3 separate regions of the Homo sapiens genome follow, and all the other regions are reported to be linked to region 3. The links are microRNA targets in miRTarBase. Many come from high-throughput screens and were not tested one by one. Region 3 holds a microRNA gene; each other region holds the end of a gene's coding sequence.
Evidence for each region. The annotated mature microRNA hsa-miR-32-5p reads UAUUGCACAUUACUAAGUUGCA and lies in region 3 at 2,826-2,847, opposite strand. An mRNA with a match to its seed (bases 2 to 7 or 8) in the 3' UTR can be bound and repressed. Matches are read on the target gene's strand: a 7mer-m8 pairs with bases 2 to 8, a 7mer-A1 pairs with bases 2 to 7 and ends in A, and an 8mer does both.

Region 1: the mRNA of BCL11A is a reported target of hsa-miR-32-5p. Seed matches in the 3' UTR shown: 8mer at 955-962.
Region 2: miRTarBase lists DNAJB12 as a target of hsa-miR-32-5p. Seed matches in the 3' UTR shown: 8mer at 504-511.

Annotation. Positions count from the first base shown.
Region 1 is chr2:60,456,973-60,461,040 of GRCh38, reverse strand. It overlaps BCL11A (BCL11 transcription factor A), which reads left to right. Exons shown (of 4, transcript NM_022893.4): 4 at 1-3,847. The coding sequence ends at 637. Among named protein-coding and RNA genes, the nearest start is that of MIR4432HG, 68 kb to the right of the region's middle.
Region 2 is chr10:72,332,424-72,336,491 of GRCh38, forward strand. It overlaps DNAJB12 (DnaJ heat shock protein family (Hsp40) member B12), which reads right to left. Exons shown (of 9, transcript NM_017626.7): 8 at 3,357-3,508; 9 at 440-2,194. The coding sequence ends at 3,387. Among named protein-coding and RNA genes, the nearest start is that of DNAJB12, 20 kb to the right of the region's middle. RefSeq lists enhancers at 2,394-2,803, 3,364-3,483.
Region 3 is chr9:109,043,447-109,047,514 of GRCh38, forward strand. It overlaps MIR32 (microRNA 32), which reads right to left and starts at 2,852; the gene lies at 2,783-2,852. The region is part of intron 14 of TMEM245 (transmembrane protein 245); the gene reads right to left.

The DNA of each region.
Region 1 (4,068 bases), not on the chromosome of region 3:
CAGCCCCAGCTCGCTGAGCCCCTTCTCTAAGCGCATCAAGCTCGAGAAGGAGTTCGACCTGCCCCCGGCCGCGATGCCCAACACGGAGAACGTGTACTCGCAGTGGCTCGCCGGCTACGCGGCCTCCAGGCAGCTCAAAGATCCCTTCCTTAGCTTCGGAGACTCCAGACAATCGCCTTTTGCCTCCTCGTCGGAGCACTCCTCGGAGAACGGGAGTTTGCGCTTCTCCACACCGCCCGGGGAGCTGGACGGAGGGATCTCGGGGCGCAGCGGCACGGGAAGTGGAGGGAGCACGCCCCATATTAGTGGTCCGGGCCCGGGCAGGCCCAGCTCAAAAGAGGGCAGACGCAGCGACACTTGTGAGTACTGTGGGAAAGTCTTCAAGAACTGTAGCAATCTCACTGTCCACAGGAGAAGCCACACGGGCGAAAGGCCTTATAAATGCGAGCTGTGCAACTATGCCTGTGCCCAGAGTAGCAAGCTCACCAGGCACATGAAAACGCATGGCCAGGTGGGGAAGGACGTTTACAAATGTGAAATTTGTAAGATGCCTTTTAGCGTGTACAGTACCCTGGAGAAACACATGAAAAAATGGCACAGTGATCGAGTGTTGAATAATGATATAAAAACTGAATAGAGGTATATTAATACCCCTCCCTCACTCCCACCTGACACCCCCTTTTTCACCACTCCCCTTCCCCATCGCCCTCCAGCCCCACTCCCTGTAGGATTTTTTTCTAGTCCCATGTGATTTAAACAAACAAACAAACAAACAGAAGTAACGAAGCTAAGAATATGAGAGTGCTTGTCACCAGCACACCTGTTTTTTTTCTTTTTCTTTTTCTTTTTTCTTTTTCCTTTTTTTTTTTTTTCCTTTATGTTCTCACCGTTTGAATGCATGATCTGTATGGGGCAATACTATTGCATTTTACGCAAACTTTGAGCCTTTCTCTTGTGCAATAATTTACATGTTGTGTATGTTTTTTTTTAAACTTAGACAGCATGTATGGTATGTTATGGCTATTTTAAATTGTCCCTAATTCGTTGCTGAGCAAACATGTTGCTGTTTCCAGTTCCGTTCTGAGAGAAAAAGAGAGAGAGAGAGAAAAAGACCATGCTGCATACATTCTGTAATACATATCATGTACAGTTTTATTTTATAACGTGAGGAGGAAAAACAGTCTTTGGATTAACCCTCTATAGACAGAATAGATAGCACTGAAAAAAAATCTCTATGAGCTAAATGTCTGTCTCTAAAGGGTTAAATGTATCAATTGGAAAGGAAGAAAAAAGGCCTTGAATTGACAAATTAACAGAAAAACAGAACAAGTTTATTCTATCATTTGGTTTTAAAATATGAGTGCCTTGGATCTATTAAAACCACATCGATGGTTCTTTCTACTTGTTATAAACTTGTAGCTTAATTCAGCATTGGGTGAGGTAATAAACCTTAGGAACTAGCATATAATTCTATATTGTATTTCTCACAACAATGGCTACCTAAAAAGATGACCCATTATGTCCTAGTTAATCATCATTTTTCCTTTAGTTTAATTTTATAAACAAAACTGATTATACCAGTATAAAAGCTACTTTGCTCCTGGTGAGAGCTTAAAAGAAATGGGCTGTTTTGCCCAAAGTTTTATTTTTTTTAAACAATGATTAAATTGAATGTGTAATGTGCAAAAGCCCTGGAACGCAATTAAATACACTAGTAAGGAGTTCATTTTATGAAGATATTTGCTTTAATAATGTCTTTTTAAAAATACTGGCACCAAAAGAAATAGATCCAGATCTACTTGGTTGTCAAGTGGACAATCAAATGATAAACTTTAAGACCTTGTATACCATATTGAAAGGAAGAGGCTGACAATAAGGTTTGACAGAGGGGAACAGAAGAAAATAATATGATTTATTAGCACAACGTGGTACTATTTGCCATTTAAAACTAGAACAGGTATATAAGCTAATATTGATACAATGATGATTAACTATGAATTCTTAAGACTTGCATTTAAATGTGACATTCTTAAAAAAAGAAGAGAAAGAATTTTAAGAGTAGCAGTATATATGTCTGTGCTCCCTAAAAGTTGTACTTCATTTCTTTTCCATACACTGTGTGCTATTTGTGTTAACATGGAAGAGGATTCATTGTTTTTATTTTTATTTTTTTAATTTTTTCTTTTTTATTAAGCTAGCATCTGCCCCAGTTGGTGTTCAAATAGCACTTGACTCTGCCTGTGATATCTGTATCTTTTCTCTAATCAGAGATACAGAGGTTGAGTATAAAATAAACCTGCTCAGATAGGACAATTAAGTGCACTGTACAATTTTCCCAGTTTACAGGTCTATACTTAAGGGAAAAGTTGCAAGAATGCTGAAAAAAAATTGAACACAATCTCATTGAGGAGCATTTTTTAAAAACTAAAAAAAAAAAAACTTTGCCAGCCATTTACTTGACTATTGAGCTTACTTACTTGGACGCAACATTGCAAGCGCTGTGAATGGAAACAGAATACACTTAACATAGAAATGAATGATTGCTTTCGCTTCTACAGTGCAAGGATTTTTTTGTACAAAACTTTTTTAAATATAAATGTTAAGAAAAATTTTTTTTAAAAAACACTTCATTATGTTTAGGGGGGAACTGCATTTTAGGGTTCCATTGTCTTGGTGGTGTTACAAGACTTGTTATCCATTTAAAAATGGTAGTGGAAATTCTATGCCTTGGATACACACCGCTCTTCAGGTTGTAAAAAAAAAAAACATACATTGGGGAAAGGTTTAAGATTATATAGTACTTAAATATAGGAAAATGCACACTCATGTTGATTCCTATGCTAAAATACATTTATGGTCTTTTTTCTGTATTTCTAGAATGGTATTTGAATTAAATGTTCATCTAGTGTTAGGCACTATAGTATTTATATTGAAGCTTGTATTTTTAACTGTTGCTTGTTCTCTTAAAAGGTATCAATGTACCTTTTTTGGTAGTGGAAAAAAAAAAGACAGGCTGCCACAGTATATTTTTTTAATTTGGCAGGATAATATAGTGCAAATTATTTGTATGCTTCAAAAAAAAAAAAAAGAGAGAAACAAAAAAGTGTGACATTACAGATGAGAAGCCATATAATGGCGGTTTGGGGGAGCCTGCTAGAATGTCACATGGATGGCTGTCATAGGGGTTGTACATATCCTTTTTTGTTCCTTTTTCCTGCTGCCATACTGTATGCAGTACTGCAAGCTAATAACGTTGGTTTGTTATGTAGTGTGCTTTTTGTCCCTTTCCTTCTATCACCCTACATTCCAGCATCTTACCTTCATATGCAGTAAAAGAAAGAAAGAAAAAAAAAGGAAAAAAAAAAAAAAACCAATGTTTTGCAGTTTTTTTCATTGCCAAAAACTAAATGGTGCTTTATATTTAGATTGGAAAGAATTTCATATGCAAAGCATATTAAAGAGAAAGCCCGCTTTAGTCAATACTTTTTTGTAAATGGCAATGCAGAATATTTTGTTATTGGCCTTTTCTATTCCTGTAATGAAAGCTGTTTGTCGTAACTTGAAATTTTATCTTTTACTATGGGAGTCACTATTTATTATTGCTTATGTGCCCTGTTCAAAACAGAGGCACTTAATTTGATCTTTTATTTTTCTTTGTTTTTATTTTTTTTTTTATTTAGATGACCAAAGGTCATTACAACCTGGCTTTTTATTGTATTTGTTTCTGGTCTTTGTTAAGTTCTATTGGAAAAACCACTGTCTGTGTTTTTTTGGCAGTTGTCTGCATTAACCTGTTCATACACCCATTTTGTCCCTTTATTGAAAAAATAAAAAAAATTAAAGTACACATTGTAAGCTTCTTGTGTCCTCATTTGACACACTCTGTAAATTACTTGCAAGAAAATAACAGGTTTTAAGAGAAGGCCAGTCAGTCTTTTTCAGGATTATTTCTATGGGCATTCTGATGCGTGTATTATACCCTAAAGGAACATAAAGTACTTACTATATTAAAATAGACATATCTCAAACCCTGGACATAGTTTTAAGGCTTTCCAGTTTAGAATAGTT
Region 2 (4,068 bases), not on the chromosome of region 3:
CTGAGTGGGATCGAGCTCCAGGCTGGGGCCGGGAATTTCGAATGCTCTGCGGGCACATGGCAGGCCTGAGGGTGTGGGGGGGAGGGATTGGGAGAGGGAAAAGCAGAGGGTGATGGTCGTGGCCCAGATGCCCAGCCAGGACTGGCGCTGGGGACCCCAGGGACCCAGACTGCTCAGGTCCTGCAGCCCCCCAGTCACCTGAGCACCCCTCTGCCTGGATGGAGTTAGTTCTGGAACAGCATGTGTGGCTTAAGTGGCTGTTAGCCAGGGCCAGGGGTCGGGGGAAATTCAGGCTCATCATCTAGAGCTCCTTGTGGCACAGGCTGGACAGTGTCAGCAGCAGCAGGGGCTTGTGCCCCCTCCCCCCCACCCCTTAGGCCTCCCTGCTCAATGCAGACCCACCACGGCCAGTCACATAATAAACATATATTAACAGATGTACAATTTGAGAATTCTAATTCAAGAAATACAGCTTCCAGAGGATCCTTTAGGATCTATGTTCTTATTGCACATGGCTCAGCCCGTCTAGGGACATCTACCAAGACCAGATGGTCGGGGCGTGGGGGCAGAGCACCGGGGCCACAGTGGGTAGGCACTCTGGCCACATCAGTTCTTATAATCTCTCTGGGCTGAAGTGGCTGCTTCATTGCAGGGTTGGACCTTGTTTAAAAACCAGATTTGACATTTCCTTACCGAACTTCCTTTCCCAGCAAGAATCCTATTTGTTGGGGGACTTTTAAAAAAAGAGCCGAGAGAAACTCTGGGAGGGTGGTTATCACCTCCTGGCTGGCAGCTTGGGGAAGTAAGGCTTTGGAAGACGGCGGGCGCAATGACACACCCACCGCCACAGGAAAACATGGTCATTCCAGAAGGCCCAGGAGAAACTGTGGGAATAAATAAAACCTCCCTCCTCCCACTGGCGGCAAGTGCTGTTTTAAGCAAAATCCTCATTTCAATGTGAGGGTAAGAAAACTATTCTGGTTCAGGTGTATCCTTTGTCCAAGGTACGAGAGGAGGCCTGGCGGTCACATCAACAGCGAGTGAAGACAGAGGCAGCCACGGGCACTGCCTTTTCTTCAGGAGTCGAGGAGGCTGCCCTGGGGTCCCGGCACCACTGACTGACTCGGAGGAAGAACTTTCTGAAGTCCTTGGTGCATGACTTAGGAAAAACCAGTGGCAATGATGGAGCTGTGCCCTGTGGCACCTATAAGGCAAAGCCCACTGAGGGACTTAGGGGTGGGGAAATGGTTAGGTAGATCCTGGCCCCCTCTGCAGGCCTTCCCTTCTGTGGGCAGGGGGCTGGAGGGCTCCTGGGCACCAGGACAAAGAGCCCACCAGCGCTGCTGAGAGGGGAGAGGTGGTCTCACCCAAGCAGGTCCTTGTGGGGCCTCTACTGTGACTCAATACTGACCTGGCACCTGCCTCCATGGCCTGCTCCTCTCCAGGTTAACCATAATCCTGAGGCCTTCGCGGGTTCACACTATCATGATTACTGCTGCCATCAAAACCAGGCTGGGGTTTCGGGGGGCTGTGAAAAGCTCTGATGCGACTCTCCTTATGCTGTCAGCTACAGCTAATGTCTAGCAAAAACATCACCAGGGTACCTTCCCCAAACAGGCCTCATTTTCTAAAACATGGAAGAAATCAGCTCAACAACTTAACCAAATCCCTGCAGAGTTTAAAAAGTAGACTATATATATATATATCTTCATATATGCCTATTTACATATAAATAGATATATATACATATACACGCATCTATAAATTACATTCTATGGAGAGTTCTCTTTCTTCCTCCTATCTTTGGCCAGGGCCTCTGGCTTCTCCTGAGAGGTGGCTGGTGGTGGCTCCTGTGAGGGAGGAAAGGCAGCTGGGTGCCCCCTCCCCCAGCCCTTCCCACTGATATCTGCTGCGAGTTTTACATTCTACTTTCGTTGCCATGGTTTCTGTATCCTAGGAGAGAGGCGATGCGGAGCCTCCGCCAGCCCTGCGAGGGAGGGAAGCAGCCCCATGGCAGGTTTTCTGTCTGTCCTAAGAGCTTTCTGCATTTACTGGGTGAGAGAGAGGGCAGCTGTGCAGCGTTCGGCCTCCAATTCCATTTTAATTTTGTTTCTTTGTTTGTCTTTCCTCAAATATACAGTCCATCACCTTGGCTCAGTGCATGTCACCAAAAATTCTCCAGGGATTTCATAGTCTGGGGAGGAGAGTGGCAACAGTTAGCTCGGCATTCAGGCGGCACCGGCTCCTCTAGCTTATGCCACACAAGTAGCCCCCCTTGCCACTGCACCGCTGCACCGTGCTGCCCGCTCGACCCCCACCAACCCCACTTGCGGCCTGCCCTCCTGCGGCAGCACAGAGGCAGGCACAAATGGCCTCCAGGCAGAGTCAGCCATGGATCCAGGCCGGGAGGACACAGGCAAAGGAGGGGGTGGGCAGGGCACCCACACAGAGAAGAACCTTCACTGCTTCTGCCCACACTTCTCTGGGCTTGGCTGAAGTGGCCACCTCTGGCAAACGCTGGGAACAGAGCCCAGCGCCCCCATTCGCCGGGCTGCAGAAGGAGGGAGCCTGCTACCAGCAACTCTCATTTCCCCTCCACCCCTCCTGTGCTGAGCGGCTGCGTCTGACCCTGAACTCATGACCTTCTGTTCCCTTCCTCAGACCGCAGGCGAGATGCCTGGGCAAGGCCGGATGCCTGTGGCTTCCAGGCTGCCAGGTGTGACGGCATTCGAGAGAGTGCCTCAGATCCCACCAGAGGGGGGTGGTCAGGGCCCGCGGCCCCTGCCGCCACCAAGACTGCCAGCTCCCACCCACCTCGTGGCTGCCTGTTCATCTTGCTCCATTTCCTCCTAGCTGGAGGGATGGAGAAAGGGGAGGGCTCTTGGCCCACCTATTCCCACATGGTTCTTCCTGGTATCAGGCAGGCAGTGTGCATATGGGGCTCTCTTGGGCCCCACCATATGTGATGGCCTAAATACCAGGGCACGGACAATAGTCTGCTGTGCTGGAGAAAGGGCCGTGCTGACTGATGGCTGGAGTGGACCAAGAAGCCCCGGGTGGCCCTCAGCAACAGTTTCAAGTTCCCACTCTGCCTGGTTCTGGGGTCCCCCACACCCCTGGAGCCAGGGAGCAGAGCGGAGGAGTGGGGAGGACAGCATCGCTAGAGGGCGGAAACCGACCTTGGTTTCCCAGCAGGCCCCACAGCTGCTCGGTCTCTGGAGGCTGGAGGTCAGGCTGGGGACAGGAGTCTTTGCCACAATCACCAGGCTTCCTCCCTTTCTCCCCCTCCCTCCTCTGCTCATGACCAGGGCCAAAGCTGCCAGGAGTTGCAGGGTGGAGGCAGCCCTGGCTCATACTTGGACCTCGGTGGTGTGGCTGGCCCAGGACTATCCATGCAGGGAGGCCTGCACCTCTGACAGTCGGCTGCAGCTGGGGGTGCCCATCTTCTGTGCTCTGTGGTACATATCTGTGTCGCCAAAGTAGCGTGCCCGGTACAGCAAGCCTTCCTCTGCAAAGCAATGGGACAGGGTTAGTGCACACCCAGTACCTCCCGAAGCCTGCAAGGAAGCCTGCGAGGGCTGTGGAGGGCGGAGGAAAGCTGGTACATGCCCGGGGCTTGGGCAGGGCTGGCCTCCCATTAGGAAGACCATGGAGGAGCAGAGACTACAGTCCTTATGTGGGCGAGGGTGACAGAGGCGCCTTTCTCTAGAATGCAGTGAGGCCAGCCAAGGTGAGACCCTGTCATCCTGGTCAGGCCTCCCCAGGGTCCCACAGACAGATCCAGGAGCACAGTCAGGGGGTGGCCAGGGATCCATCCGCTCCAGTCCATCTCTACACACTCACCTCTGGCAGCCAACATGCTGGGCTGATGGCAGTGATTTACGGGAACCTGAGGAAACTACCAGGTGGCCCCTGGCTCCCAGCCCCGGAGAAACACAGGAGTGGAGACCAGCTCTTGTCTGGGAGGTGGCTGGTGCAGGGCAGTGCCAGGGGCTGGGCCCTCAGAGCACAGGGTGAGCAGGGCTCTCTCCTTCCCCTGCTTTCCAGCTTCATCCCAAGCCACCTCCC
Region 3 (4,068 bases):
ATTTATGGACTATATACGCTTCCTCCACCTTTATGTCTCAAAAAATATCTGCCTTTTCTTGGTTTTCTGGGACCTTTTTCTTCAGTGATTCTTCAAAGATTATTGACAGTTGTTCTTTAATTTTAGTCCAAGCTCTCCTAGCACTCAATAGTTGATGAGAATCAAACTCTGGAGGTTCTTTTCCTCCCTCCTTTTGGTAGCTCAGATGGACGTGATTTAGCTCAATGGAAGAAGAGACTGACACACCAGCCACTGAGCTAGAGGCACGGTTTTCTAACAAGGCCTATTCCCTATTCATAGACCTCCCATTACTACACAGTCTTAGAGATGTTCTCCTGTCCCATACTATATATAGACTATTATAGAGCAGGATTCCTGTCCATTGGAAGGTAGGCCATCGTGCATCCAATCCAGCTATGCCCCACCTAAGCATACCTCTCTGTGGAATAAAAGTTCCAAGAGTTAGTTAGGATCAGCTTTTTCTCAGCTAGGATTTTCCCCTAATAAAGCCTACTGTATATTTATACCGTATGGCACTAAAGGTGTGAATATCCATGCCTCCTTTACACAACTATATTTAATAATAACTCCTCTGCACCAGAAGCTTGAATTGACTTCAAATGATTGTTTACAATGTTAACTCTTCCTAACCAGCTCTTGATCTTCATCCTTTATAAATCCTAGGATGAAACTTACTTTTTCACACGTTTCCTGATACTTAACTTTAGCTCTCAACCCTCTCTTTTCTGACAAACCAGATTGTGCTTGCTACTTTTCTAAACTGAGTAAGAAAAAAATAACAAGACAATTCAGGATTTAATCAGATGACCTGCTTTTAATGGAATGATATTTGAAGCAAGGAGTGGGATGGGGAGAATAACAAACCAGTCCAGAAGCTCTATAAACTCAGTGTACACAGGGCCTTAGACCACAGCTGAGTAAGAATTACCTGTCTAAGGAAGAAGATAAATAATGAAGAAAAGGAGGAGTGAAGAGTCCAAAGTGAAATTCTGCCTCCTCCACATTTCCTTACACTGGTTCCACCCTCTTTTCTAAAGGACTGTCATTCCCCTTCCCAGTATTCTAGCCTCACTGCAATATGGTATGTCTCAAGTAGAAAGTGAGCTGGTGGGAGAGACCAGTCAGCTTTTAGAGACACAGTATATACAATAACCAGTGGGAAAAGTACTCGCCAGCTCCCTTGACTGCTCTCTACATATTTATGGGGTACATAATAATGTTTCAATACATATAATGTATAGTAATCAGATAGGGGTAATTGGCATATCCATCATCTTGATCATTTATCATTTTGGTTTTTTTTTTTTTTTTTGAGATAGAGTCTCACTGTCGCCCAGGCTGCAGTACAGTGGCATGACCACAGCTCACTGCAACCTCCACCACCTGGGTTCAAGAGATTCTCCCACCTGAGCCTCCCGAGTAGCTAGGACTACAGGTGCATGCCACCAAGCCCAGCTAATTTTTGTATTTTTAGTGGAGATGGGGTTTCTCCATGTTGGCCAGGCTGGTCTTGAACTCCTGACCTCAGGTGATCTGCCCGCCTTGGCCTCCCAAAGTGCTGGGATTTGAGGCGTGAGCCACCGTACCTGGCCTCATTTCTTTTGTTGGGAGCATTCTGTATCTTCCTTCTAGCTACTTGAAATGATATAATTTATTGTTGAACTACAGTCATTCTACAGTGCTGTAGAACATTAGAACTTATGCCTTCTAAGTAATTTTTGTATCCTTTAACAAATCTCTCTCTACCCACCCCTTCCCAGCCCCAACCTCCCTTGAGAGGTCACATCTTCCCTTTCTTGATTAATCTGCCCTGGAAACCCAGCTCCACAGGGTGTCATATAGCAACCTGGCTGACATTAGATTTCCAGCATGAGGGGAACGGCCGAGCTGCTGAAGGGCACAGGGGATGAGCTGCTTACGTGGAATTCTTCCATTCTCACCCTCCAAAACAGTGGTGAAACACAGAAACATACAATGACAGCATCACAATAGATCATCTGGAGGCTATGGTAGTAGTAAATATTAATTCAATATTTTCATACAGTAATACATGGTTTTGTGTCCTTGACAATGCCTAGTGATTGTGGATGCTTACTCTAATGCTAACTAAAAAAATAACAAGGGGTTGTTTCAATTACATAGGCAAATAGTAAACGTGTATTTCAAAACTAGTTCCATTATTAGCCCACTAAAATGAATTTAGCAGTTTTCGAAGCATCACAATGAGAAAGTAAAAGACACATTTTTAAGGTAATTTACCTTGGAAACTTAAGTTTATGAGATGAATCTTTCATCAGGTAGGTTAAGCATACCTTTACTGTCTTGATTATTATTTAAGAACTCCAGTTAATTTAATTTCCCCAAATATGCATAAGAGATTTCTGCTTCTCTATTCCAGTGTTGGGAGAGATTTCTTCAAATAAATGAAAATACATTTTCTTACAGCTTTACATTCTTCCTTATACATTTAAATATTGTTTATACTCTTAAATCAATGAGAATTTGTAATAAATATTTCATTTGCTCAAAGTAAAAAATGGAAACACTGATTTACTAAATGATCATTGCTGACTTTTTTTAATCCAAATACTTTTAATTCTCCAAAATTGGAAGGTACCGATGGGAAGCATGTTCACTTTCCAAATGAGAATCGCATGGCATACACACTGTCTTATCTAATTCATCAGGACACCCACCCACTGGCACTGAAAAGCTGTAATCCCAGCAAGCAAGAGCCATACCCGTGTGCATGCACTCATGTGAAAATATCACACACACTAAATTGCATTGAGGCCGTGACAACATGCAACTTAGTAATGTGCAATATCTCCACCAGAGCAAGCAGAATGGGAGCATCAGGGAAGAAGGGTGTGATGTATACATTCAGGAGACAACATGCTGCTGAAGAGAGGAAAATGGTCTGGGGATAAAGGATGCATGCCACTGACTCAAAACTTCATGAAATGAAAACCCAATTGCAAATGTATTCAACTGAGAAGAATACTTATTCAGAATCAAAATAATGAGTAAGGTTCAAAACTTCAATGAGATAGTGATCATAAAGAAACCACATACTTCAGAAGGCAAAGCTTCACGAACAGACACTATCACTGTCTGGTCATGCAATTAACCCCCAATTTCAATTCCATTTTTGACTTATTCACAGATCATATAAATGAATGTAATGATTTCCACTTAGCTGCAACATAGATGATGATTAATGACTGATGCTTATAAAAGTTGGTATCACTGATATTTGTAGGCTAAACTGCACTTTGAGGACATTACAATATTTTCATAGTCATTCATAAATTATAAATAACCACTTATTTTTCCCTCAAAATCTTTTTCCATGAAGAAACATATTGCCTCTTCAACACAAACCTTCAGGATGAAAAATCCAACAGGAGCTCTTAGAAAGAGAACTCACTACCATCTTCTCCACAGGAGAAAGCTCTTCAGAGGAATCTCTGTAAAATCTGTACATTTTAAGTCTTGAATTTGAGCCAGTAAAGAAACAGCCCTAGGAACTTAAACTGCAAAAAAAACACCTTGAATTATAGCCTTAAAATTACATAACTTGATATAGCTTTGGTTAGAAAAATGTCTCAGGCCATAACCCATTCTTTAGTCTGTACCATATTTATCAGACTCATAAAAATCTATCAATTCTGAGAACCATTAGATTATAGTTCTGGTACCAAAGGTTGTTAAAATTTTTTCTGTATTTAAAATAAGGTGATAATAAAACAAATGGTTTTTAAATGCCAGTATACTATGGAACCAAGACATAAGCTACTGTTATAATACATAATTAGTGTATGCACTCCCAAGAAGGGAAGTCGAATCTAATTTGTAAAAGACTGATTTCCTCATATCGCTGTAGATGACAGCACTCTTTGTAATCTCAAATTCTCTCCTGAGCCAAAGACCTGAATTTCTAAATGCCACCCTCTTATGTCCACAAATATAAGTCATGATCTTCCCTAACCAGCTCCTCTTGAAAGAAGGCATCATGGTGTAACAGAGTATGTGCTTTCAATCAGC